Regions from separate parts of the Homo sapiens genome. Here all the other regions are linked to region 5. Evidence: fine-mapped expression QTL. A gene starts in region 5. Each other region holds a variant in brackets. All regions are shown on one strand. Distances are between the middles of the regions. Region 1 has its middle 24 kb from the start of ATXN7L1. Region 2 has its middle 36 kb from the start of ATXN7L1. Region 3 has its middle 16 kb from the start of ATXN7L1. Region 4 overlaps CDHR3 (cadherin related family member 3). Region 5 holds the start of CDHR3 (cadherin related family member 3).

The links. PIP is the estimated chance that this variant, and not a neighbour inherited with it, causes the effect. A credible set is the group of variants that fine-mapping cannot tell apart.
Region 1: its variant is the best candidate, but not a certain one, in a credible set for the expression of CDHR3 in putamen (GTEx, PIP 0.54).
Region 2: its variant is the best candidate, but not a certain one, in a credible set for the expression of CDHR3 in whole blood (TOPMed, PIP 0.89).
Region 3: its variant is the best candidate, but not a certain one, in a credible set for the expression of CDHR3 in esophagus mucosa (GTEx, PIP 0.82).
Region 4: its variant is the best candidate, but not a certain one, in a credible set for the expression of CDHR3 in whole blood (TOPMed, PIP 0.60).

Annotation. Positions count from the first base shown.
Region 1 is chr7:105,898,130-105,902,676 of GRCh38, forward strand. No RefSeq gene overlaps it. Among named protein-coding and RNA genes, the nearest start is that of ATXN7L1, 24 kb to the left of the region's middle. The variant G/C (reference allele first, on the strand shown) is at 2,199.
Region 2 is chr7:105,910,382-105,914,928 of GRCh38, forward strand. No RefSeq gene overlaps it. Among named protein-coding and RNA genes, the nearest start is that of ATXN7L1, 36 kb to the left of the region's middle. The variant C/T (reference allele first, on the strand shown) is at 2,098.
Region 3 is chr7:105,890,455-105,895,001 of GRCh38, forward strand. No RefSeq gene overlaps it. Among named protein-coding and RNA genes, the nearest start is that of ATXN7L1, 16 kb to the left of the region's middle. The variant A/G (reference allele first, on the strand shown) is at 2,552.
Region 4 is chr7:106,019,641-106,024,187 of GRCh38, forward strand. It overlaps CDHR3 (cadherin related family member 3), which reads left to right. Exons shown (of 19, transcript NM_152750.5): 13 at 733-904; 14 at 2,558-2,808. Among named protein-coding and RNA genes, the nearest start is that of CDHR3, 59 kb to the left of the region's middle. The variant T/C (reference allele first, on the strand shown) is at 2,604.
Region 5 is chr7:105,961,254-105,965,800 of GRCh38, forward strand. It overlaps CDHR3 (cadherin related family member 3), which reads left to right and starts at 2,011. Exons shown (of 19, transcript NM_152750.5): 1 at 2,011-2,111. The coding sequence starts at 2,066. RefSeq lists enhancers at 564-1,515, 1,516-2,467 and a silencer at 2,050-2,344.

The DNA.
Region 1 (4,547 bases), 63 kb before region 5:
AATTTCAGACGAGAGGCACTGATCTTTTCATAAGGACTTTCCTGCTACACCTCCCACAAATGGTGTGTGTCTTGTGAACTCTATAGGTGTGGCATTGATAATGGTGTTTGATAGTGTTTGGGCTGTTCAGAATCTGCCCTTTATACTGAAATGGTATGTCTAGCTTTGTTTCCAGGATTACAGAAACTTCTTTGGTCTATTTCCGTGACTGCATTCAGTGGAGACACATTACTTTCTGCTTTTCAGAGCCTGAGACCACCTTCCAGGACAATGGAGGCATATGGTGGCATTTCTAGTTGGAGTTGGCGCTGATTGAGCCTTTGCCATTACTTGGCAAAATTAATTTGGTTGTGGTTGGTTGTTTGACCCGGGGGTGGCATTTTTCTGTGGGCAGAATAGTAGAGCTGAGTTGCATATAGTTGTTTTTAAGGTCTTTGGATAATAACCATTTTAACCAAATGTGTAGAGGCTTTGAAATTGCCATATGTGCAACTTAAGTTATCATTTCACATACAAGTAGTTCATTAAATATATTAATTGAGTTTATTGAACATATGCTTTTAAAAATAGACTTTGTATTTTAGAGCAGATTTAGGTTCACAGCAAAACTGAGCAGATAGTACAGAGATTTCTCATATACCCACCCACTTGCATAGACTCCCAACTAACAACATCCCCCACCAGAGGTGGTACATTTGTTAGAGTTGATGAAGCAACACTGACACCTCATTATCCCCCAAAGTCCACCATTTATATTAGGGTTCACTCTTGGTGTTGTACATTCAGTGGGTTTGGACACATTTTTAATGACATGTATCCATCATTATAGTATCATACAGAGTAGTTTACTGCCCTACAAATAGTTTGTGTTCCACCTAGGCATTCCTCCCACCGTTCTAATCCCTGGCAACCTTTTTTTTGTTTTGTTTTACCTTCTCCATGGTTTTGCCGTTTCCAAAATGTTGCAAAGTTGAAATTAACAGTATGTAGTCTTTTCCAATTGGCTTTTTCACTTAGCAATATACACTTAAGTTTCCTCAATGTCTTTCTGTAGCTTGAGACAGCTCATTTCTTTTTAGAGCTGAATAATATTCCATTGTCTGGATGTACGGCAGTTTACTTATCTGTTCACCTACTGAAGGATGTCTTGGTTGCTTCCAAGTTTGGGCAGTTATGAATAAAGCTGCTATAAACATCCACATCCAGGTTTTCGTACGGACATAAGTTTTCAACTCTTTTGGGTAAACACCAAGGAGCATGCTTGTTGGATCGTATGGTAAGAATCTATTTATTTTTGTGACAAATTGCCAATCTGTCTTCCAAAGTGACTGTGCCATTTTGCATCTGCACCGCAGTCAGTGAGAGTTCCTGTTGCTCCACATCCTTACCAGCATTTGCCATTGTTGGTGTTTTGGATTTTGGCTTTTCTAATAGGTGTGTAGGGGTATCTCATTGTTTTAATTTGCATTTCCCTAATGACATATGCTATGGAGCATTTTTATATGCTTTTTTGCTAGCTATATATCTATATATAGCTATATAAATATATATTTTTTATTTCAATAGTTTTTGGGGTTCAGTTGGTTTTTGGTTAAATGGATGAATTGTATAGTGGTGAAATCTGAGATTTTATTTTACCTGTCACCCAAGTAGTGTACCCAATATGTAGTTTTTCATTGCTCTCCCACCTCCCCCTTACCTCCTTCTGAGTCTCCAGAGTTCATTACACCACTGTGTATACCTTTGCATAGCCATAGCTTAGCCCCTAATTATAAGTGAGAACATATGGTATTTGGCTTTCCATTTCTGAGTTACTTCACTTAGAATAAATGGCCTCCAGCTGCATCCAAGTTGCTGCAAAAGACATTATTTTATTCTTTTTTATGGCTGAGTAGTGTTCCATGGGGTGCACCTGTGGATAGCCTTTCCTGAACACTTCAGCGGGGCTGCCTCTCCACAGGCAGCGTGCCCTCCAGTTGCAGGCTTGCGCGAGGGGTAGAGTCACAATCCATCTCAACATGGAACATCAGCCTTCCTGCAGATGAAAAGAGGTGTCTGTCTGATCTGAATAGCTGGGACACTGGGTCAGGAGTGTGACTAGGAGGTGGATCACTTTCAGGGGAGCTGAGGTGTCCGTCCCTTCCTTCTGAGAAGACCTCCGTGCATTTCACTGAGAGCTCCCTCAGCTGCCTCTATTA[G/C]GGCTGGGACCTCTACCCATCATTGGGTATTGCATTTACCCACTTTGCTTTAGCCACCAATTTTTTTTTTTTTTTTTTGAGACAGGGCCTCACTCTCTCACCCAGGCTGGAGTGCAGTGGTACAGTCTCAGCTCATTGCAACCTCTGCCTCCCAAGTAGCTGGGATTACAGGTCTGTACCACCATGCCTGGCTAATTTTTGTACTTTTGGTAGAGACAGGGTTTCACCATGTTGCCTAGGTTGGTCTCGAACTTCTGAGCTCAAGCAATCTGCATATCTCAGCCTCCCAAAGTGCTGGGATTACAGGCGTGAGCCATTGTGCCCGGACACCACAATCGGTTTTTACCTGTGGACACCTCCCCTTCTGGCTGGAAGCTCAACCTGTTCAACCCAGTAAATAAAGTGCTAGGGAAAAAATTAAAAAATGCATACTACTGGAGAACAAGATAAGCTTTGAGAGACCTCTGCCATTCTGACCCCACAGGAGACAGTGAGCACATTGCTGCTACAACCAGCAGCTGAGAAAGCCACCATACAAAGACTCTCTATAACCAAGGAACTCACACAGAGTCTTCACCCCTGAAAGCACCAGGAGCAGAATTAGGTGACAATAAACTGTGTCTTTTTTTATAAGGTGTCTATTCAGATCTTTTGCCAGTTTTTCAACTGGGTTGTTCGTATTCTTATTGTTGAGTTTTTAAGAGTTCTCTGTATGTGTTAGGTAAAATTCTTCATCAGATGTCTTTTGTAAATATTTTCTCCCAGTCTGTAGCTTGTCTTCTCATTCTCTCGAATATACACTCCTCTGACGGTGCTCTGTTAGATGTTTTATGGGCACAGAAATTATATTTAGCACGGAATTTCTCCCTTTCAAGTTGCTCTCATTCTTATTGGCAAATACCTATTTCCTGGGTGCAGAAAGATCCCCATTGCTGTTTCCTATTGGCTACTCATGAAGCTGTTAAGTGGATCGTGGGAGCAGTAAACACTCCAGATAATTTGTTTATTTGGGAAACTTGCTTGGATAGTGTTTTATGTCAGAATTCTATGACAAACTGTGCTTTGGTGACTTATGTATTCAGACTCTGACTTATCTGGGAAGACAAAATGTCATTAGCATTCTAAGAAATATTAATGACTGCTATTTATATACCCCATCCACACCACTTTCACTGGCATCTGGCATTGATGATTGTGAAGTATTGATGACTTTTCCAAATAAGATGGAATATGGCAATTTGGTAAAGAGCAAACATTTTTATTTTATTTATCTGGGGTTAATTTTTTGTATTTTGAAATATTCAAAAATACTTAGTAGAAGGGATCATTTCTTTTTTCTTTTCTTTTTTTTTTTTTTTTTTTTTTGAGATGGAGTCTCCAGGCTGGAGTGCAGTGGCATGATCTCGGCTCACTGCAAGCTCCGCCTCCCGGGTTCATGCCATTCTCCTGCCTCAGCCTCCCAAGTAGCTGGGACTACAGGCGCCTGCCATCACGCCCAGCTAATTTTTTGTATTTTTTAGTAGAGATGGGATTTCACCGTGTTAGCCAGGATGGTCTTGATCTCCTGATCTTGCGATCCACCCGCCTTGGCCTCCCAGAGTGCTGGGATTACAGGCATGAGCCACCACACCCGGCCACAGAAGGGATCATTTCTAAATAGCATAGAATCACAGGGAGTACACCTCATGTGACTTCACGTTTAGAGTCAGCATTTGCTCATAATGAATTACATATCAGTAAATGAACATGACATGCTTCAACTTCAATAATATTAAACAAAACTCTTTCAGTGTGCTTATTCATAGATGAAAAACAGGGCCTGAAAACCCAGTGTGACTTGGGTGTCATATATCTTCAGTTTGGATGCACTATATCAGTGCTAATCAATAAAGGCCAGGAATGATTTTGGAGTATAATGTCCAGCCTTAAATCTTAAATGAAAGTGAAATTCAAACACTTAGCCCAGCAGTAGAAGAACAAACACTAGTGAGACAGTATAATTTGTTAAGACGAACATGGGCCAGATCCATTATCTAATATATGTGTCCTCGACAGTATGTACCGTCTCGAAGAGGAAGAAATAGTCAAGGTACCCAAATGAGCCATTCCTCAGAGACAGCCAAAGAGCTCTGAGAGAGAGCAAGTGTGGGCAAGAAAGAGGGGACATTTGTGTCTCTGACCATGAACATATGCTGAGTCACCCAACTGCAGGTCCATTTTTTTGGTGAGACTGATATAAATGTTCTTCCAAACTGGCCAAGCTGCAAGGTTTCCAAAAGCAAAGCTTAAGGCTGGACGCAGTGGCTCCCACCTGTAATCCCAGCACTTTGAGAGGCTGAAGTGGGAGGG
Region 2 (4,547 bases), 51 kb before region 5:
TTGGTTTGCAGTGTGGGCGGACTCAACCTGAGCGAAAGCCACACAAAAGCGCCTTGAGCTGGAGCCCCATGCTAGTGTTGGTTCCACCAGTGGTTCTTTTTTTTTTTTTTTCTGAGATGGAGTTTCTCTCTTTTTGCCCAGGCTGGCGTGCAATGGTGTGATCTCGGCTTACCACAACCTCCACCTCCCAGGTTCAAGTGATTCTCCTGCCTCAGCCTCCCGAGTAGCTGGGATTATAGGCATGTGCCACCACGCCTAGCTAATTTTGTATTTTTATTAGAGACGGGGTTTTACCATGTTGGCCAGGCTGGTCTCGAACTCCCGACCTCAGGTGATCCTCCTGGCTTGACCTCCCAAAGTGCTGGGATTACAGGCATGAGCCACCGTGACCAGCCAACACCAGTGGTTCTTAAACTTCAGCCTGGGTCTGAGTCACCTGGAGGGCTATGAAAACACAGAGTGCTGGGCCCCATCCCCAGAGTTTGTGCCTTCAGTAGGTCTGTGGGGGGCCTAAGGATTTGCGTTTGTAACAAGTCCCCAAGTAATACGGGTGCTGCTGGTTGGGAGATCCCACTTTCGAATCGCAGGTTCACTCTACAGTCCCATTGTTAACTTATAAAACTCTTCCTCTCTAGTTCTTCTTTTTGTAAAGGTGTGTCCTGAGGAACCTCAGATTTGAAAGAAGAGTGAATGGAAGTCAAATGTGGAAACCACTCAAATGTCCATCAACTGATGAATGAATAAACAAATCATGGTATATCCATACAAGGAATATTATTCACCCATAAAAAGGAATGAAGTCTTAATACACCTACAACTGGATGAACATTGAAAACATTATGCTATCCATTCTGCTTCAGGTTGGAAAAAAAAATACGATCCTTACCTAAAGAAGCCATCTACAAAAGGCCACATATTGTGTGATTATATCATATGACCAGAATACGCAAATTCATAGAGACAGAAAGCAGATTAATGGTTGCCAGGAACTGGGGGAAGGGGAGGAATGAGGAGTGACTAACTGTGTTTTTCCCATTGTGATTAAAAAAAAAGTTCTGGAACCAGATAGTGGTGATGGTTGCACAACATTGTGAATGTACTCAGTACCACTGAATTGTACACTTTAAAATGGTCAGTTTTGGCTGGGCACGGTGGCTCACGCCTGTAATCCCAGCACTTTGGGAGGCTGAGGCAGGGGAATCACCTGAGTTCAGGAGTTCAAGACCAGCCTGGCCAACATGGTGAAACCCCGTCTCTACTAAAAATACAAAAATTAGCTGGGCGTGGTGGCACACGCCTGTAGTCCCAGCTACTCAGGAGGCTGAGGCAGGAGAATCACTTGAATCTGGAAGGCGGAGATTGCAGTGAGCTGAGATTGTGTCACTGTACTCCAGCCTGGGCAACAAAGTGAGACTCTGTCTCAAAAAAAAGAAAAGAAAAGTTAGTTTTATGTAATGCCTATTTTATCACAATAAAAAATTAAAAGAGTGAATGGAGTGTTGTTTTAACTCCCATCATGGGACCAGTTGAAAGGTTTATAGGATAGAGGTTGGAAATGCAAAGGGCCTAAACCAGTGGTTTTCAGCCCTGATTGAGCCATCCTATCCTTGGAGAGTTTTATGTCTTATCCTTGTCTTAGCTGCGCCCGAGACCAATTAAATCAAAATCTCTGGAGGTAAGGCCCAGGCATCAAAAAAATTTTCAATACATCCCCAGATGATTCTAACATACCATCAGTATTTCAAACAGTGGCCTGAAACCTCAAGGGTCAAATGAGTTAATGACTTTGGTGCAAACTGACTTGACCCATATCATAAACAATGTGCCTTCATCTTCTCCCATACTTGCTTGGGAGGGGATGTAGAGTAGAATGAGGAGGCTTTCAGAATCAGATCTGCCCAGGATTTGAAAACTGGCTCCATTACCAACTAGCTGTGTCTCCTTGGGCAAACCACATAACCCTTGTGGGCATGTTTTCTCCTAAGTGAAGAACACCATTTCAGAGGGTTTTTGTGAGGCACACATGAAGCAGCCAATTTCCCAGCTTTACCAGTGTCAGACCCTGTTTAGTCATCATTCCTTTCTTTCCATCTCATT[C/T]TAGACCGGAAAGGAGAAACAGTCTAAACTGCATGAAAGTCCTGGTACTGCTGTATCTCGTACTATAAGTTCAGTTTTCTCCCTTCACCTGAGGGTAAGTTGAAGAATAACTTCATAAGCCAGGGAGAGATACGTTTGGATCAGGAGTTAGTGATAACAGGTGAGCCCAATAATAATCCTTTTTGCGCTCATGCTCAGATGTTTTTTATGCACCAAGCTTTATAATGATGTAGATATACTCTAAGACAAAAACAGATAAAACTCACCTATAATTTTGAATCATAAAATAGTTTGGATTTTTCCATGTTTCTGGGTAGTCCTTACTCTTTGATAATATAAGGAATATATTTTTATTCAACTACAGTTAAGGCATAGATATAATTTTATACTCTGCATTTTCTTTATCTTCAGCATTCGTTATGTTTCTATAGTTCATTATTGACATTTTAATGACTACATAGTATTTGATTGAATAGCCTTACTGTAATTTATTTTGATATTCCTCTATTAAGCCTTTTGACTGCTAAGTTTTCAATATTAGAAATTGTACATAGTAAAAATATTTCTGCACGTAACTTTTAATTTCCTTTGACTTCTTTTCTTTTTTTTTTTTTTTTGAGATGGAGTCTCGCCCTGATGCCCAGGCTGGAGCGCAATACCACAATCTCGTCTCACTGCAACCTCCGCCTCCCGGGTTCAAGCGATTCTCCTATCTCAGCCTCCCGAGTAGCTAGGATTACAGGCGCCTGCCACCATGCCCAGCTAATTTTTCTATTTTTAGTAAAGATGGGGTTTCACCGTGTCGGTCAGGCTGGTCTCAAATTCCTGACCTCGTGATCCACCCACCTTGGCCTCCCAAAGTACTGGGATTACAGGCATGAGCCACCACACCCGGCCTTGACTTATTTTCTTAAAATATATTTCCTTTAAGTTACTGGATCAAGGGGTGTGAACATTTTAAGGTTCTTGAGTGCAGTATCAAATTGCTCTGGTAAAGGATTGTACCAATTTACACTGCTACCAGCAGGGTGTGGGTGTACATTTTCAACAACTTGCCAGCACCGAATTTCATCATTTAAAAAGGGTTTACAGATTGTACATAATTTAATTTAATATAAACTAATAAATTACTGTGTCCAACTTTTGAGCATGCTTAAAATTTTTTCCCCATTTCTTTTTTGGTGGCATCCCTACTATTTCGTAAACTGCTTGAGGGCAGTTTACAAACCTTGCACATTGTAGAAAATCAATAATTGCTTTTTGAAACAATGAATAATTCAGGGAATCCCTGTTCCCAATAATTCTTCAGTTTTGATAATAGCAGTGGGTTTTGGGTTGTTTTGGTTTCAAGATAAACTAAATTACACTTTATTTCACTGATGTTGGCAGCCCCAGAGGACTCTGTTTGCAGGAAAAAAAATGTATGAAGATTTTCCTAGGTGGGAAGTAGACCTCTCCCACACAACGAGAAGAGCAGCTAAATCATTGCTCTTTTCTCCCAGTCTCTCCCTGCACTCCCATCTGATTTCCTGTCTGCTCCTGAAAAGCCAGCTCAATATGAACTAAGGAAAAGCTATTTGTAGTGCTCATGGGAGGACAAAGAACACAAATAGGCTCTTCCTAAACTATTGAGCTTAGCTTTCACTCTTTCCAGCAGGAAAAGGGTCATGCATGTCCAGGTGATACTACTTGTACTTTGGTACCCATTGATTGGGACAGTGTGTGCCGATGAAAAGGTGCTGTGAATTCAGTAATGCTTTTTAAATACGTATTTTAATTTCAATAATGTCTACATAAATTTCAAAAACAGCAATTAAAAAATATGCTTGAGACCAATTTATCCGGCTACACCTATTTGGTGCATATTTGCATTCTTAGATTCCTTAAATGTCCTCTGCACAAAGGTTAGGAAACTGTGCCCTGACAATAAAGCAGTATCTTATTAGAACTAAGAGATTAACCAGTAAAGAGGACTAGAGAAGTCGTTGTTAACTGATACTTTATTAGTATTTAATACAGTAACCTGCCTCTGCTAGAAGTAAGGACTCCTCCTCAACTTTTAAAGATAGCTAATTTTATAACTCTGCTTCCTACCTGTTCACCTTTTTCTCATTGGTGACAGCAACAAACAATTAATGGCTTTCTTAAATGTCTTGCTGTCTGAAATAAGATCTTTTTCCAATTAAAAAGTAACAAAGGCTGCATCTCTCCTCTGTTTCCTTCTTTGGCTGTAACATCTTGACATCTCTCTCTCTGTCTCCTGTTTTATCCAAGACCGAGTTACATGAAAACAAAATGGGTCATAGGCTTCCATTGTGGGGGCGGGGCGGGGGGGCAGATTATTTGTGACTTTGGTTTTAAAGAAAATTTATGCTGGTGGTTTGCAGAAAGTTGACATATATCCTAGGGTTTCCTTGTCAGAGGGCAGCAGGGTCCCCATGGGTTCACAT
Region 3 (4,547 bases), 71 kb before region 5:
GGTTTAGGCACTTTAGAAATTCACAGATAAGTCACTGCAAGTAAGAACTAGCGATGAGCATTCTTTTCCTCAACCACAAACCACACGTGCCTCTATTTGTATAATAGAAGGCTATAATGGGAGTCAAAGGGACTAGTTTGTTGAGAATGTTGCTGAATATATCATGTTGTCCCATTGATGTGCTTTATAATTGCACTGATGTGTTTTCCAGAAAACTGTGGCACCAACCCAGGATTCTAATACATAGTCAAGAAAATGCTACAGCCTGTTGTAGCTCCCCCAAAGCAAGCAGCTCTCCATGGAATGGCGTCCCCAGGCTTCACACCATGGTCAGGAGGGCCTGCCCCACAAGTGCACATCCTGCTCTAGCTAGGACCATTGTGCCTGAGTTTGCATCTGGGTTCCTATGCTGGTGTGCTGGCTTGAACCACATGTGAATCTCAACCCCTTCTTTGTCTTTGAAGGTAGATACATCAAGAGAACTCCATCATGGGTGGGGTGTCTTGGGGATGAGCACCAAGGAGTGAATGTTTGGTTTTGATAAGGAATTATGAAAGAGCAATAAATATGCTAACTGTAGAATAACCTGCTCCAACAGCAGAGAACCAGGTTTCTGATCCAACTCTGGGGTCCAGACCAGGGGCTTGAGAATAGTTTTTATTATGAAATGACCCTGTTAGGGGTTTAATTGGCCTCCTCCCAAGATGCTGTACTTTTATGTGAAGTGCATCAGGGGTCCCTTCTATTTGGAGAAGATAAACTAATTTCCTTCTGTCTATCCAGTGCCATTTGGTCTCCCTCTCCCATCCTCCTATTCAGTAGCCAAAGAACTAATTTGGCTACAATACAACCCTCTTCAGAGTGCTGGGGAGAGAGAGAAATCAAATATGAGCAAAGCCCACACCCTCTGTAGTGGGCAAAGCTCATTTGTAAATAATTTTAGTCTTGTTGCTCATTCAGTAATTCTGTATCCCTCCCAATAGGTATTGGCAGCGTGTCAGATGGCCACCAGTTATGAAGAGCTTCCCCATTTCCGAAACCCCCTAGCTTCTCAAGGGTCTGTGAACTGGGGAAACCAGTTATGCTAAAGGAGTCATAGACCCATTCTTTTCTCTTTTTGAGGGCTGGGGTGGGGAATGGTAGAGTGGAACAACATCTTCTATTCATCTACTCATTCAAGAAGCATTTACAGAGCTCTCCTCTGTGGCAGGCCCTACCCGAGAGGTGGAAAAGAGAAATCTGGACACATCGTATGTCTCAGTTTTCCAAAGGCATTTCACAAAATGAGTAATAACCTCTGTTGGGCTGAATGGTGGCCCCTGAAGATATCAGGTCCTAATACTTGACACCTATGAATGTTACCTTATTTGGTAAAGGCTTTGTAGAGGTGATTAAGTTAAGGATCTTGAGTTGGAGAGATTATTCTGGATTAGCCAGTTAGGCCCTAAATGCCATTAAATGTATCCTTGTATAAGAAGGAGACAGAGAAATAATGACACACGCAGAGGAATAGGCGATGTAAAGATGGAGCAGGAAAGGTTTAAAGATGCTAGCGATGGAGATTGGAGTGAGGCAGCTACACACTGAGGAACACCGCAGCCAGCCGGAACTGGAAGAGGTGGGGAACAGATTCTCCCTGCAGAGCTGCTGGAGGAGTGAGGTCTTTTGGCACCTTGATTTTGGCTCACTGAAACAGGTATGGGACTTCTGGCCTCCAGAACTATGAGAGAATAAATTTGTGTTTATTGACTCCTCCAAACTTGAAGAAAATGTGTTATACAGTAGTCCCAGGACCATCCTTGCAGGTAAAATGGAGACGTGGGTCTAGAAGACAGTGCAAGTAGGTGTCAAGGTATTTGACCAACTCTGTCTGTTATTCAGTCACATGGGAAATACTGACTGACTACTCAAATCTACAGTGCTTCAGGCACTGGAGCAGTGGATAAGGCAGACAATATCCCCACTGACACTGGGGTAGGGGGAAGGAGCAGCTAATAAATAGGTAAATGAAAAATATGAACAAGGTAACTTTAGCAATTGACAAGTGCCTTAAAGAAAACAAAACAGGATAATGTGGAATGGCGGACGGGGATCCTTTTAGACTAGGTAGTAGGAAGCCCTTTCTGGTGAGAAAGCCTTGGAGCTGAGTCCTGAAGATCATGAAGGAGCTACCATCTGGAGGGAGAGCATTCCAAGTGGAATGAGTGGCAAACACAGAGGCTTTGAGATGGGAATGAGCTTCCTGTGTGTGAGAAGCAAACAGAAGGCCCAGACCCCTCTAAGTCAACAGGGATATCATTGCTCAGGGAGGGCTGTGGGATTCTGTCCTAGGCTCTGCCCTGTACAATTTTCATTTTTTATAATTAAATTGGAAGAAAACGTAATGCATCATAAATGTGCAGGCAATATAAAGCTTGTAGGATGTGTACTGGGTTAGAGTCAGGGGTTGAGTTTCAAAATACCTTGACAGGCATGAACAAAACAATGAACTTCAGCAGGGACAAACTGTGAAGTCCTGACTTGGGTCTGAGAACAAGTATTTGCCTAAGTC[A/G]AGAATGGGAACCTGATTTGAGTGCGGTACTGGTGTGAAGTCCCTGAAGCTGAGTGTCAGCACGTAGCATGATGTGACTGCCATAAAAAAGTCAAGCACTTTTACAACTTTTTTAAACTGTGGGGTACAACTCCAGGGAGGAAGTAGCCAGGGGTCTGTTTGTGGAGGACTGAGTGGGTATCACATTTTATGGGGTCACAGAAACAGCTCATTATTTGTTTATTCATTCAATTAATAAATGCTTAATGAGCACATATTATGTGCCTGGCACTGACTAGGCTTTGGGGTAAATAACAGTGAATAGGATGGAAACATTTGATGACTTCATAGAGCTGACATTCTAGGGAGAAGATAGACATGGCAGATTTAATTATACACATATCTTTTTCACTGTATTAGATTTTTTCAGATTATAAAATTATAGTAATAAAATAGCAATATCAAATATTACTGAAATACATAACATAGGAAAAAATATGCCCTGTCAATTCATCCTCCCTCCCCAGACGTAGCCACTGTCAACCAGTTTGTGCACGTTTTTGTAACTTTTAAAAATATACATGCAATGTATTTTTAAAGCATAAAAGGGGAATCATACACGTCTGAATTTTGTTTTTTAGCTTCATATATCTGGGATATCCTCTCACATGAACACAAGGAAATCTACCTCATTCTTTTTAATGTCTGAATAATATTTCATGCTATGGATGCATTATAGTTTATTTGACTAATATCTTGTTGAAATGCATACCGTTTCCATTTTCACTATTATAAGGATTTGCAAACAATTGTTCTACATACCTTTTTATATAGCCTGTGGTCATATTTCTAAAGCACAGATTCAGAGAAGTGGGAATACTGGCTGGGCGTGGTGGCTCACGCTGGCTCACTATGACATCTGTAATCCCAGCACTTCGGGAGGGTGAGATGGGCGGATCACCTGAGATCAGGAGTTTGAGACCAGCCTAGCCAACAGAGCAAAACCCCGTCTCTACTAAAAGTATAAAAATCAGCTGGGCGTGGTGGTGTGTACCTGTAATCCCAGCTACTCAGGAGGCAGAGGCAGGAGAATTGCTTGGACTTAGGAGGTGGAGGTTGCGGTGGGCCGAGATCAAGCCACTGCACTCCAGCCTGGGCCACAGAGCGAGACTCTGTCTTGCAAAAAAAAGGAAAAAAAAAGAAGTGGAAATACTGTATCAAAAGGTATGGAAAATTTAAATGATAGATACCACGTTTCTTACCATTCAGGATGTACCTCAGTGAGAGTGCAGATGAGATCACATGTTTTCTTGCAGCCTCAACATTCCAGGCAGTGTAGACAGTGCAAAGGTCCTGTGGTAGAGGGAACCTGGTGTATCAGCAGGACTGAACAGATTCCCTAGGGGCAGAGAGCAGAGAGCCAGGTGGGGAGTGAAGAGGGAGGCATGGGCCAGACCTTGCAGGGCCTTGCGATTCATCTTGAGGGTTTTGGTCCTTATCCCAAGAGAAAGGAGAAGCCAAAGGGAATTTCATGCAAGCTGACATGATGAGATAGGCATTTTGAACAGGTACCTCTGGCTGCTGTACAGGCAATGGACTGGGAAGATGGAAAAGTAGATGTGAAGAGCACCTGGGGTAGCTATTTTGGGAGTCCAGGTGAGAGATGATGGTAGCCTGGACTCGGGTGGAGGCTGGCCATGGAGAGGAGTGGCTACATTTAACCGTTTTTTAGGCCACAGAACTGATGGAAGCTGATGCCTAAGTGGGCTTAGGTGGGGACTGAGGAAGAAGGCAGTGTCCTGGAAGAAAGATGGAATGGGAGTTATCATTGGGATGATGAGATGTCAAAGGAGCAGGTGATGATTGGCCAAAAAAGTGAAGATCCAGAGGAGATACCTGCTTTAGAGAGCAGCCTTTGCACCCTTGTCTCTCATGCCCGCAGCTCTATCAAAGGCAGGCTGACCATGGGATTCTGCCACCCTGGCCACAGCTGATTGGAGTGGGAAAGTACCTGAGC
Region 4 (4,547 bases), 58 kb after region 5:
AAAAGACAGCGATGAAAGAGAATAGGCTGGCCCCTGCTTATGGCAGGTTAGCTCTAGGGCTTAGTACAGTGCTAATAGCCCAGGTTACAGATGAGATCCCAGCTTAACCAGGCCTGCTTGTTCTGTCCCAGTGAGTCTTAGCCCTGGCTGCATATTAGAATCAGCTAGGGAACATCAATGAGGGCCCTGACCCCCACCCTCCAATCTATTGGTTCTGAAGTGGGCCCAAGAAAGCAGAGCCAGGGCTGAGAACCATTTCTGCATATGCCAGAGTTAAAGAAGTTCCATTTACAAGGGGCAGCAGGCAAGGTGGCACATGGAGACACCGTAAATCCACACCTTCCTGGAAAAACAACTCGGTGTCATCTGCAGGTGAGCCTATGTGTCCAGGTGCATGTGTGTGTGTGTGGGGGGGGGGCAAGGTATACATACACTAAATGTGCACACACACATGCATATGGTGTAGAAGTTAATAGCATAGGATTTGGAGTAGGACAGACCTGAATTCAAATCCCAACTCTGCCATTCACTAGCTGAATGATCTTAGATCAATTACCTAGTCTCTCTAAACTTCCATTTTCTCACCATAAAATGGGAATAATCATGTTAGCTATCTCATGTGAGTTTAAATGAGCTAATTTATGAAAAGTGCTTAGCCTGAAAACTGCCTACACACAGTAAGCACTCAATGAGTTTTAGCTATTGAGAATGACCACCTTCTTGCTACTCTAGGTTACTGTGAACATCCTTGAAGAAAATGATGAAAAGCCAATTTGTACTCCAAACTCTTATTTCCTGGCCCTCCCAGTGGATCTGAAAGTTGGCACAAATATTCAGAATTTCAAGCTGACATGTACCGACCTTGATTCCAGCCCCAGATCTTTCCGTTATTCCATTGGCCCAGGTATAGTACTTGGTGTCGACAATCCTGGCCCTGTCTCTGAGGACCCTGAAGTTGTCTAGGGTAGGGGTCTGTGCTCACACACTGATCTGGGCAAAGTGGGATGGGAGTTGGGAGGGCATTATTTTTTTGAGATAGGGTCTTGCTATGCTGCCTAGGCTAGTTTTGAACCCCTGGGCTCAAGTAATCCTCCTGCTCAGCCTCCCAAGTAGCTGAGACTACAGGCATGCCTCATTGCACCCAGCTTGCTGGGGAAGTATTTGAATGAGGAAAGCAGAGACACAAAATCTAGCAGCCCCTATGCTTCCTGGCACTCCTCTCAGTTTCCCCTTCTTGTCTTACTCCTCCCAGACCCCATACGTGACTGCCCAAAGGCCCAAGAAAAGGGTGAACCCCCCAATTCCTGACTACAGTATGAGTCATAAAGCATATTAGTGTTGTTAGAAAAAATGCAGTCCAACTTTTCGACCACCTCTTTTCCTGAAAGCTGGTAGTGGGGGCAGGGAATCCCAGTCCTCTCTCTGGATAATAATAGATTAAATAGATTAAGTGCGTTTTGAAACGTGTCCTCAGGAATTCTCTTCTGCTCCATTCATCTTCTGTCTTTAAAAATATACCATCGTAGGGAAAAAAGAGCACCCCTCAATGGAAATTAGACCAAAATAGCTCATCTAATGAAGTGCTGGGGCCAGAGATTTAAACCCAAACAAGCAGAACAATTCCACGTGAGAGAGTAAAAATCCATCCCTGCTGCCTGCTGTGCCCTTGGCCGAGCAGGAACTTGAACAGTAGGAAGCCTCTCGAGCTGGCTGTGTCACAAAACCCAGGGGCAGAAACTGCCTCGAGACTGCAGTTGCCGAAGATGGAAACAATCCATACTGAGAGCCCTAAGGCCTTTATGGAGCATTTTGCTGTTAAGGGAGCAAAAATTGCATCATCTCCTGCTCCATTTACTGGTGTTCAGTCGGTAATGAGTCTGGAGCCAGTGGAGGAATGAGCGGGCATGTGCTTGGGCTGGCAGCCTCTCTGCCCCAGGCTCCCTGAGCTGAGCCATGAGCCCCAGCAGAGCTGTGTGTGTGTTTGGGGGTGTGATGGGGTGGGTTCAGGAGGACCTGGGACTGCAATTCCCGCAAAGCCAGGAGGCACCTTCCTTTGGAGGACTCCAGGGACAGCCATAACCAGTGTGACCCACTGGGTCCTGTGAAAAGCATGCAGTGAACTTGGCCTATGGCTAGGGATGTGACCTATTCTACCCTCTTGAAACCCACTCATTTGTTTGAGTGTGAATTACACGTGTTGTTACCAAATAATTGCCGGATGAGAAATCAGAAGGGGCTGCACCAGGGTTACAAAGTCTCTGCTTAATACTCAGCAAGATGGCACCTAGGCTAAGGGTGTTGTACTATTGTCCTTTTCTACTCAGCCTTGTTTGCAGCCACACTGGTTGTGAGCAAGAGTTTCTTTGTACTAATGCCATCTCTGGTGCAGTTAAAGCCTGTAGCATATAACTAATCCAGCTCTGGTGTATCAGAGACACAGTCTACACTTGAGGTGTGGACATTTGAGAAAAAGATTGAATGCAGTTTTCTTCTAAACCTTTATTTCTTACTCTCTTTTCTTCCTTTTACCAACACCCCTGCATCAAATCTCATTTAGGTAACGTCAACAATCATTTCACCTTCTCTCCCAATGCTGGTTCCAA[T/C]GTCACACGCCTGCTGCTTACATCTCGCTTTGACTATGCTGGTGGGTTTGATAAGATCTGGGACTACAAGCTACTTGTCTACGTAACTGATGACAACTTGATGTCTGACAGGAAGAAAGCGGAGGCTCTTGTTGAGACAGGAACAGTGACACTGAGTATTAAAGTCATTCCCCACCCAACCACTATCATCACCACGACCCCCAGGGTAAGGGCTTTAGGACCTGGAATCCCCAGGCACATTCCCTTGTGAGTTATGTTGATGGACTTCTTTCCCCGGCCTGGAGGTATGTGGGGTGGACTGAAGAGTTGAGGTATTAGGATGTTGCCAAAAATGGCAACCATGGGCTGGACTGGAGTAGCTGCAGGGTGGCAAAAATCTGGTGAGACCTCAGACTCATAACCGCTAACTCAACCACTAACATTTCCTGTTCTGGTAGAGAAGAGTGTGTTGTTTGTGCAGAGACTTGTGAGAGATCAGACCTCAACCATCTGTGTGGCTTGTGGCACAGGAGCTGATTTCCATGGGCATGCTGCCAGTTGCTACCTTCACAACCCCTCTCTGCTTGTTCAGAAGAGTCTTTGCAAGTCAATATCCATGAAATTAGGTTGCTTGCTTACTGCTGGGTGCTCTTTCCCACATCTTTTGAAGAATCACCAGGTACCAATCTGTACCCTACACCCCACCTCCGCTCCAAAAAAATTCATCCAATCTACAAATATCGATTTAATGCCTATAGTGTGCCAGTCACTTTAGCAAACAAGCCAAAAATGATCCCTGCTCTCAGAAAGCTTATTGTATAGGCGAGTGATTCTCTAAGTGCGGTCCCTAGACCATCAGAATCAGCACCACCTGGAAACTGGTTGGAAATGCAAATTCTCAGGCCCAGCCTAGATTATTAAAGTTATAGGTTACCCAACCATGATCATCACCATGACCTCCAGGGAAGGATGCTGGAACCTGGAATCCCCAACTCTATCCCCTAACCTAATGAATCCGAAGCTCTGGAGGTGGGGTCCAGTGAGCTGTGTTTTCAATCAGCCTTTCAGGGAATTCTAATGTGCATTAAAGTCTGAGAGCCACTGATCTAGAGGGGGAGATAGATTACAAACAAGTATTCAAATTGACAAAGTAAATACAGACTGTGGGAAAGGGTAGGAAGAAAATGACCAGGTGCTATCACAGAATTGGCCTGGAGAAGGAAGGGAGAGCCTTGAATCTGACAACAGGATTATCTTCCCTGCCCCTTGGAGGAACTGGCTTGCATCTATGCTGACTCATCTGTCCCCTTTCTTCCTCCTCCTCTTCCTCCTCCTCCTCCTCCTCCTAGTAGAAGCTGCACCCCTGGTCAGCAGCCTGATACCTGCAGCATGCCAGAAGGAAGATAATCAGAACCTTAGAGAACCCACTATGGAGGTGGCCAGCTTCTTCTCAGAGTCTTGCCAGGAGCTGGTTCATGCTTCTCTCTCCCATGCTCGAGTCAATATGACCCCAGTGAATGGAGGCATATGGCAACCCTAGGACTTTCCTTGTGGGAGGAGCTGGTAGGCTCTCCTGAGTGAGGAGTTCCCACCTTTCTTGGGCTCAGAGCATGACCTGATTGTGACATCTCCAATCCTGAAACCTCCGTAACTTGTTTGTTATCTGTCTCCAGCTCTAGGAAGCAGATGCTGAACTTGAGGCTTTGCTGTGATATCAGCCCACTGCTCTGGCAGTGGCAGCTTGTAGTTGAGAAAACACTGAAAAGCCTACAAGGCATTTAAAAAAACAACTTTCGTGGCTTATGCTGTCTCGGTGAGAGACAATGGCTATATTCGTCCCTGGGTTATGCCCAGATATGGCAGAAAAAAAGCCAATGGAGTTTTTTTTAGCTTTGGGGAAGGGGAAGACAGAGAATAAAATAAGGCCTAGAGTTGTTTTTCAGTTCCCTAAAATTTCTGGGTTTT
Region 5 (4,547 bases):
GAATCGCTTGAGCCCAGAAGTTTGAGACCAGTTTGGGCAACATAGGGAGACGTCCTCTCTAAAAAAAAAATTTTTTTAATTAGCCTGGTGTGGTGGTGCACGCCTGTGGTCCCAGCTGCTCCAGAGGCTGAGGTGGGCGGATTGCTTGAGTCCAGGAGATTGAGGCTGTAATGAGCTATGATCGCGCTGCTACACTCTAGCCTGGGAGACAGAGTGACAGTGAGATCCTGTCTCCAAAAAAAAAAAAAAAAAAAAAAAAAGTATTTTTAAAACACATAGTATGGGCCAGTTTCTTTCACTTCTTTCTCTTGTGTATCGCTTGCGATGATACTGTGTAGCAGGTATTATTTTCCCTGATTTACAGAAGTGAGTGGAACTGAGATTCTGAAAGGTTAGGTAAATTGCCAAAGGTGACACAGCAACACTCCCTTTTGTTTTGTTGTTGTTGTTACTATCTATGTGCTTCGAACAGAGACCTATCGACTAGCTTTCCTAATCTTACTACCTTTCCTTCATGCTTTACACAAGAAAAGTCAACTTTTCTTAAGGGAAAGGTTCTTGTTATTTTGAGCAGGAAAGTAAATGACCAAAATTGTACTTTGGGGAAATTAACCTAAGTTTCTGTAGGATGTGCTGCGGGCCAGAGCCCAGGCCAGAGGCAAGGACCTTAAGCCAGGGCAGTAGCAACAAGCATGGGAAGGGGCCCGGCAGCAGGCCCTGGAGGCTGGAAAGGGCTTGTCAAATGTTTGGATGTGGTGGAAGGGAAGGGCAGCCTTGCCACCCTAGGTTTGGGACGCAGGGGACACAGGGGACACTGGCAGGTGGCGCAGCCTGGGTCAAACCCCTCACTCTCTGAGCCCTTCTTGCTTGGCACCCTTGCAAATAAATGCCTTCCTTTCTATTGCTGCAAAAACCTCGGTGTGGATATCCGGTTTTACTGCACAGGGTGAGTGGACCCAGTTTGGTTCCATAACACTGTCTCCCTCTATCCCTCGTTGGTGACCTCCGTGTAGCAGGTGCTAAAAGCTGGTTCACCTGTGGGGCATGTGTAGTTTTCAGAGCGCCTGTGGGGTCTCGTCCAGACTGGGAGGCTCTGACTCAACTCCCCACCTTCTTCACTGCATTCCTGCCCCCAGCCTTGGGCTGCTGGCCTCTCCTCCCCTAGCTGGCAGAGGAATGGGAGAGGTGGTCCAAGCCCAGCTGCCTTCCACTGTGCCCACTACTTCTCTTACTGCACCATGTCAAGGGGACAGGCCACTGCTCGGCCGTTCTCTCTCTGCTCTGCTGTTGCTCCTTCTCAGTGGAGACTAGACCCCAGCCCGCGTTTGTTCACATGCCACATCTTGTGCCCTGGCACAGGGCTGTGTGGAACAGAAAGGCATCGTGAAGGGCAAGACCTGCATCACTCCCCAGTGGGCAGAAGCCTCACCACTCCAGTAACCTTCCTTCACAGCCTTCTTCGAGGGCTGGAGGGGCGGTGGTGGGGGGTGGAGTCAGAGGGCAGTCTTCCACCTCAAGTCAGCCTCGAGGAGGGGTCTGCTCCCAGCTCTCAGATCTTGTCTTTAGAACGAGTGCCAGTTAATTCCCAAGTCTGAATCCTACTCATTGATTCAGGACAGCAGAAAAACTCCCACTTCCCACCCCTGTTTCTGGAAATGACCACAAGCCTGGCTACAGGGCGACCGAGACCATCATGGGTGGACTACGCACGTCCAGCTCTTAGTGTGGTCTCCGTGTCTCGGTTTTCTCTTTTGACTTCTCTTTTGGAGCTCTTGGTTGAGACACTTGGTGAGTGTGGACTTTTAAGGTAAACTCTGAGCTGACCAGGACTGGCTGGTTGGTCTCTTGGGTGCTATGCAGTCACAGAAGCAGGTAATCAAAGAACAAACAGTCCTGTGGTGTTTGGAGTCTCCCTTGGCTACCGCCAAAGCCTCTGTTTGATTTCTTGCATGGCAACAAAACCAGGAGGGGAAGCTGAGTGGCTTCTGGAATAAACTTTGGGTGTGAGACGGGATTCAGGCTGTGGCTAATGTGCTGGAAGCACGCACAGTTGTGACCATCAAGTATGCAGGAAGCAATCATTCTCCTGGCTCTCCTGGGTGCCATGTCAGGTAGGAACTCAATTTTGCTTTGGAACCTTGCTTGCCTACTTGGTCTGCATAATACCATTGAATGACAATGTCCCCCAGAAAGGAAATTGCCCCTGGGAGGCTTGTTCAATTGAGGGCTTAGCTGCAGTAATGAATGAGGTGATGCCGCTCCAGGGAGCCCTGGGGGACCAGGTAGGAGCCCTGGAAAAGAGAGATGCTTAAAGAGCCTAATCTAATCTATGTTGGTGTAGACTTCACTTTCCCTCTTGGGTTAACTGGCCTGCATTTGGTAGTCCTCCTGAGATTTAAGGTTGGGAAAATAGTGTTCATAGCAGAGCTTTGTGAGTATGTCAAGTGAGTCTTTGTGGAGATTCTGGCCCTTTTCTGGAGGCTCGTAGGGCAACTTGAGGTTGACAAGTGATCCTTTGAGGAAAGTGAGTTACTGAGGGGGTGTCTTCCTCTTGAGCAAAGAAAACACCTTCTGATAGAAGGGTCAAAGACTCAAGCTAGTGATCATTTTACTCTCTCTTCCTCATTCAAGGGCATCAAGAATCTTAGATGATCTTTTTAATGTCAGCTTGGATTATTGAAATTGAGATTTTAAAATTAAATTTTATTTCTGAATAGGTAGTATATGCATAATATATTGAATTTATGTTAAATTTGCAAATTAATTTAGGGATAATTTACATCTTTGACAAGTTATGTAGTAAAATACTTAGAAGAGTGTCTGAGTACATAGTAAATGCTTAGTAAATGTTAGTGAGTATTATTTATGATCTTGAGTCTTCCTAATCCAAGAACAGGGTTCTAGATACTTGTTTGAGTCTTCATTTGTTTTTCTTAGGAGTATTTTGAGGTTTCCTTCATATAGATTTGGTACATTCTTATTATGGTTATTTCTAGTTCTTTTACTTTTTCTTTTTTTACATTTGTAAATGGAATCTCTTCTTCCCTACATCTTTCAACTGATTATTGTATGATGTATGGAAATCTGTTAACAAATTATCTTATTATTTGGCATGGTTTTTCAGGTGATTCTCATGAATTTTCCACGTTTGAAAAAATGAACATTTATATTCTTCTTCTCCTATGTCTATAGCTCCTATTTTTTTCTTATCTAACTGCCAGGCCTGGACATTCTGACCATTATTAAATAATGACAAGAGTGTAAATTCCTGTCTTGTTTCCCATTAAGCATGATGTTAACTTTTGGTGTGAGAGAGAAATGTTTTATATGTTAAGGAGGTGGCTTTTATTCTTATTAATATAAGAATATTACAGTATTTATTTCTAAATAAAAATATAATAAAACTAAATGTAAGAATATTCAAGTACTTATTTCTAAATAAAAATGGATTTTTAAATCAAACGCTTTTTCAAGATCTATGAAAATGACCATTTAATTTTCCTCTTCGATCTGCTAATAAGATAAATAAATAACTGGGTTTCCTAATATTGAGCCCTCTTCTATCTTGGGCTTTTCAACTCAGCAGAGGGCAGGATGACCTGTGAATGTGAAGTGGGCCATGAGCAGTTCAGACTGTCACTTGAAGTAAACATTTCAGATTTCCCCCAGAAATATGGGCTTTTAGGGCCACAATCATTTGAGTCGAGGTGACTTTTATTGTCACTGGGGAAAGAGTGAGGTTAGGAAGAACCCAATTTCTTATACTGAACACTATCATTTGGAATTTTATCAGAAGTGTGAAAGGGATAGATCACAAAGGTTTGCAAGAAATACTTGAGATTTCTTATTTAAAACACACAATAGAATCCCTTAGGTCAAATCTTGTTTTTGGAAGGGCTACTGTGACACAAACTGTTTCTTTTGTGAGTCTGAGAACCTGGTCATTACCCTCACACTCCAACACCTGGGCTACAGAGGCTTCTAGCGGGGCAGCCACATCAGCACCCCTTCAGGCTGTTGGAAGCAGGCATCACTATAATAATCTCAAATAAAGTAACATACAGTAAAAAATTAGCAGAGCATGAAGACGGGTGCCTATAATCCTAGCTACTCAGGAGGCTGAGGCAGGAGAATCGCTTGAACCCAGGAGGCGGAGGTTGCAGTGAGCTGAGATTGCGCCATTGCACTCCAGCCTGGGCGACAGAGTGAGACTCCATCTCAAAATAAGTAAATAAATAAAGTAACATAGAGTATCCTCTTTCCTTTCATGTGTTCTAACTCCTATGCTTCCTTCAAGGCCCAACTCAAGCCCCACCCCCCCCCATGGAGTCTTCCTGGATTGACCTAGCTCCTGGGGAGTGCTCCTGCTGTTGCACCCTGGAGCTCCTCTTGCCTGCACATGGACTGCCTGCAAAGAGTTCAGTCCAGCACCTAATGCAGATTCAGTGCTCAGCCAAAAGTAGCATGAGCTATCATACTGTAATTCATCTGTTATATGGCCATTTCTGCCTCCTCAACTAGAATGTCAGCCCTGCAATAACAGATTT